Regions from separate parts of the Homo sapiens genome. Here region 2 is linked to region 1. Evidence: fine-mapped expression QTL. A gene starts in region 1. The other region holds a variant in brackets. All regions are shown on one strand. Distances are from middle to middle.

Evidence for each region.
Region 2: its variant is fine-mapped to the expression of LINC00517 in thyroid (GTEx, PIP above 0.99).

Annotation. Positions count from the first base shown.
Region 1 is chr14:37,900,486-37,903,414 of GRCh38, forward strand. LINC00517 (long intergenic non-protein coding RNA 517) reads right to left here and starts at 1,639. Exons shown (of 2, transcript NR_135286.1): 1 at 1,531-1,639.
Region 2 is chr14:38,592,293-38,595,221 of GRCh38, forward strand. No RefSeq gene overlaps it. Among named protein-coding and RNA genes, the nearest start is that of LINC00639, 320 kb to the right of the region's middle. The variant G/A (reference allele first, on the strand shown) is at 1,356.

The sequences.
Region 1 (2,929 bases):
AATGAATATTCTGATCTTGCTCAGATGCCTTTAAAATATCTTATTCTGTCCTTGCCAACATACCTCTGGTTAAGACTTGTTTCTCTACTATCAGTTTTATTAAAAGAAAACATAGAAACTAGATACCTGTCATGCCCTGTAAGCAGTATTGTTGCCAATTCAATTTGATTTAGATAAGTTAATAAGCAAGAAACAAGTTCCTTTGTAACATTAGAAACCTTAAATGTTGATATGTATAGTGTTTGTACAAAGTATCTACACAGTACTTACCACAGAGACCATTATTTCTTTCATAACTTTTTGTTTTCATTGCACAATGAGTAAAAGCGGCTAGTATAATAAGCATTTTCTATATTAATCTGTAAACATACTTTCAATGAATCATTCATATGGTTTTGGGATTCTTTTATTTTATCCCATGCTGTTTGTTTTGATTGTATGTATTAAAATTTATTTCTATGTGTATTGAATCTAATAACAAAAGATTGGGGCTTATATTTCATATGTTTTTACTTTTGTATTTCTTTTTTTCTAGTAATTCATTTATATAATGTTTTACCAAAAATGTCTGCAAAAGATTAAATTAAAAAAATAGTCATTCAACCACAGATGATTTGAACAGCATGTCTACACTGGACCAGGTTGCTTTGCTGTTCTTTCCTGGGAGCAGCTCGCAGGAGATGCCTGGAAGCGGGCTGGCTGTGTCCTCAGGGCTGAGTTTGCAGACTGCCGGTTTAAAATGGAGATCTGCTGAGCCATTGTGGAAGAAAGTTCTCAGGACAATTCCTAGTTCAGCAAAACTGTGGGCTTAGAAGGGAGCATGGCAGGGAAGGGAGTGATAAAGCAAAATATTCAGGTGGCAGGGCATAATTATATTATTTTAATTTAGACACATTAATAGAGCAATACAGATCCAATTATCAGCAAGATTAATAAACACAGCTTAAGTTTCCAATTAGTGGAGGTAGAGATGGAGGTGGAGGGGTGATGAAGGCAAGGGAATGAAAAAAATGTGACCAAGTCAGCCAACGTAAGAAAATAGAAAAGAGGAAATAACAATAAAGAATAAGGAATAGTAAACCTAAAATCAGATGAAATGGCAAGGCATGTGCATCTCTTTTCATGTAAGATATGAATGGTCTAAAATCATCAATCAAATAACAGAAAACTTCAGATTGAGTTCAGAAAATATTACACTATCTGTTGCTTATAGATATTTCACACACCACAAAGTGGCCAAGAAAGTTTGAAAAGTTCTTGTAGATGTGTGACAGTCATGCAGTATGCACTTCATATAGCTGTTTATTATTTAATTTTATGAGGGATGTTGACCAGCTGTGGTTTTAGAGAATTAAACTGGGCTTGGATTCATGCTAAAGGAAATAAACAAACTTATGGAGAAAAAGACATCACTATCTTTTCATGATTCTCACTGGGAACATTGTTCTGCTAGAAGTGGAGAAAACAGGAGAGACAGAAGGAGAATCAGTCTCTTTAGGATATGTCTTGCCAAGAGGGCATGTTTCCTACCAGTTGGATGGAACCCTGTGGTGGTGGCGGTGGCTAGGCAGCTTCCTGGGAGCACTTCTTCCTGCCGTTCTCCTTACAACCCACCAGGAGCCTGTCCTGGCGGGCGCTTTAGAAGGCAGGACTGCCTTGGGATGCATTGGGTTTTTCCACCCACACTAGTTCCCGCCCTTTGGGGACAGGAAAAGGCAGTTGGGATCCAAATAGACTGATTACTCTCTTTTATGGAATTCCTCCAGATACAACAGTAATTCAGTTCACATTGCTCATCAACGTGCAGGCCACATGTCTCTGGATGGTCCCTGTATATTTGAACATTCTTCACTTGCTCTGATGTTTTCCCCAGCTTCCAGATGTTCTTGGGAGATTACAAAACAGACAAGAATAGAAATTGAAAATTTTGAAAGCATATTTTAGTCTCTATATAATATAAATTTAGCGTAAGTCAAGCTAAGAGATTAAACCTGATGTGCATAAGAGTATTTTCTTTGGATGCAAATGTAGAGGAAAAACACACATTTGATGTTGGAAACTAAGTATGCTTATTTTCTGTTGGCCTTTGCCTTGAACCTAGTTCTGTAATGGGCACATAGCAGATATTCAATACATCGTGTTAAATTAATGTCATTTAGCAAAGTGAATTTTATCCACAAACTTTTGTCATAATAAAAACATGATTCGGAGTTGTTATGTGGTCTGATCCACGAAGAAGAGCTAAAATTACAATGCTGAGCTAAAAGTTGAAGTGAAATGTACCCAGTTAGAATCATGTAAGCAAACAGGGTTATTAGTACTAGTAGTACTTGAAAATGTGAGTGGAAGACTAAATGACAGAGATGTTTTGCATTGACTTTCATGTTTTCTCCTCAAGTCCAAGATACATTGCACTAAAGGTTGGAGTTCCAGTCATGTAGAGTGAAGACAGGTCTTCATATTAAACACAGCTAGAGCCTAAATGAGAAATAAGTTCCCTTTTCATTGAAACAACTGAACATTTTCTTTCTGAGTTTGCCAATTGTAGATGGTTGGTGGGCAAGAGAATGTATGCTTTGAACATTATTGGAGTTGTTGTGTGAGCATGAGAGAGACTCAACCTTGTCAATAGAATCAGTTTGTCCCCACTATCCTAGCCCGGATTATTACCTACTCTATTCTCAAGATGTAATCAAAAGAGAAGATACCTCTAGCACAAAGCCACGACCATCTGTAGACAGATGATGCAGTGGCCTTTGAACTGGTGGTGACCAGAACAGTAGCCTCATGGGAATGAAAGTGTTTTTATAACACTGTGCCATATTACCTCTGTTTTTTGAAAGACTTCAAGAATATATGTAAGACAGTTCTTATAAATTTTCATCATTTATGGGTGGTGTCCAAACATTTAGACATTTGGAGTTTATCT
Region 2 (2,929 bases), 690 kb after region 1:
AATGCTCAGGAGAATAAATGACACATCACAGTAAAAACTGTCTCTATATAATCATTTTCTAATATTTTCCATTAGGGAAATATTAGAGATTGGCCTTCTAATTTTGACTGTCCCCCTAGAAATGTCTAGTCAATCTGAGTAAATTGTTAGCCCTTATAGTCTTCACCTATAATTATATATATATGTATATATAATTATTTAAAGATTGTTGCATAGTCTTTCCAGGAAAATATGGCTCTGTCATTTGAGGCTCACATGATGGAGTGGTTATTGAAACATCAGTCGTTTTAGCCAATAACATGAACAGAAGACATTTTAGCCCATCAAATTTAAGCCAGGCATACAGACCCTGGTACCTGTTGGCAGACTTGTCCAAAGTGAGCACCTCTTGATTTATGAATAATCTGTACTTCCAGAATCACTGTTTTCTCCTATATGCAGGGACACACCACCACCTCAGGAGACCAATAAAGCTCAAAATGTTTTGACAACGTTAGAAATTGTATGAAAAGAATTAATAGTGGCATCTCAAAAACTAAATATTTTGTTCTCTTCAAGTACTGACCAAGAACGGAAGAGGCTTCATGGAAAAGCTACTTGAGAAGTTCTGGAAAACAAATCTTTAGCACTCAGTCCTTTTTTCTGTGTTGATGCGTCATTTGAGGCACTGCTATTTATGAGCCTACAGCTGAGGACTCTGTAGTGCCAGACAACTTAATCTTCCCTGATGTTATGGACTGAATGGTCGTGTACCCCCTTTCCACCAAAATTCATGTGTTGAAGCCCTAACCCTAGGGGTGGCTGTAACTGGAGTATGAAACTAATCAAGGTTAAATGAGTATAGGGCTCTGATCTGATTAGTGTCCTTACAGGAAAAGACACAGAGCTCACTCTCTTTCCTTCTCCATGTGCACACACTGAGGAAAGGCCATGTGAGGACACAGCAAAAACATGGCCATCTGCAAGGCAGGAAGAGTGTCCTCACCAGAAACTGAATTGGCTGGAAACTTGATCTTGGACTTCTGGCATCCAGAACTGTGAGAAAATAAATTTCTGTTTTTTAAACCGCCCAGTCTACGGTATTTTGTTATGGCGGCCCAAGCCGACTAATATATCCAATAACCTAGCAAGGGAGGAGAGGACAAAAAGACATTTCCTTCCTCTTTTTCAAAATGAGATCCCATACATTTCCAAGGATGTGTAAAAATATTAATATCTTGCTTTTACATACTATGTTTATACCCATAGTTCTATTTATTCTTCACAATCTTTCAGTTAGTCGGACGTAACATTAATAATCCAATTTTACAGATGAGATAGAAGGAAGCTAAGCCAAGAGCTTTTGACTCCTAGCC[G/A]GATGCAGATGCCTTGGAGTATGCCTACAGATCTTTCCATTCCTGAGTGTGCTTGCAATTAGAGCATTTTGAGGAAGTCCTGCACTCGTTCAAGAATAAAACACTAGACTCCAAAAGTTACTTCTTAACAGATAAGCATAATCACAAAGAGAACAGTAGCCATAAATAATGTTGAAGAGAAAAAAAATTTTTAAGTTGGAACTGTGCTCATTTTCAATAATTTTCATTATTAATTTAGAGTTATAGTAATTTCCACCTTTCAATGAAAGCTTTTTTATACACCACATTTCAGCTTTGGATATCTGTGACACAAAGGAATAAATCTTGGTCACTTCTTATCCTTGAACACATTATGTACAGCTCCTACTAGGAGAAAAAGCTCAGCTACAATATGAAGTTCAGAACATCCACACTTCTGATTAATCTGGAGCAGTGGAACATTTAAAGAAATAGGTTCTCTCTGGAGAACCAATGCTCTGCATTCCATTGAGAGGCCCTTCTATAGGCCTTGGTGCTATATTTCAAAAATCTAGGCCCTGAATGGCACAGCATTAATAAAGATTTAGCAGCCAAATAATTGCACTAACATGACTTTAGCATAGAACAACATATACTTTTAGGCTCATCTTTCTGTTGTGTAAATCAATGATGAAAAACTTCAAAAATTGGACCAATGTTAGACTGCTTAGGGTAATTGATTTGGAACATGTTTAAGACATTTTTTATCCATCTATGAATTCTTAAATATTTCTTATGCCTAAGAGGCAGCCAAAAATGCCTTTCAATGACCTTTGGTATTGACTCTTCCTAATAGAGAATGTCTCTGTTTGCTCCCATTTCAATGGCTCTTGAGGATGACTACCTAATGCTGGGGAAAATGTTGGCTGCTTTTAGCAGGCACGCCTGTCAATACCAACAGTTATACCATTCTACTCTTTCAGTTCAGTATCCATTGTACTGGAAAATGAAGCCCTATCTCTGAGTATTTATTCCTCTCCAGATTGGCTGTCAAAAGCTCTTTATGTTGAATTTCTTTCTTATTTGGCCCTCAAAAGAGTCAGTCTCTCCTAATTGATCTGCAAATGATTATCACATTCAGAAAAAAATGGAATCTTTGTCTAATATACAACATAAATTTGAGTTATAGTAGTATTTTGTTTGTAGATTTTTTGTGTGCACCTAGAGAAAAGAGATTTTAAAATCAAAAACATAAAAAAATTAATGAAAAAAATTAAAAATGATTTAAGGCATCATAAATAACCTAAATATCCACTAATAGAGGGTTGATATAGATCAGATGTAATATGATAAATATGTAGCTATATAGATTTATGATGATATTTCCATTCAGTAAAGTACTCTGCTTCTAATATAAATGATACTATGACAATGAAGCTTCTGCTTCTACAGAGCAGACTATGCACTAGGTGTTTATATCTCCTTCCTCAAAAATGTCTATAAAAATAACAGCAAAGAAATATGGAGGGCAGTTATCTCAGCACTAGGAAAGGAAGACAAAGCCATCAGCAGACCAGAAATTTGTTAAAATCTCTAAAACATAGTAGGTAGATGGA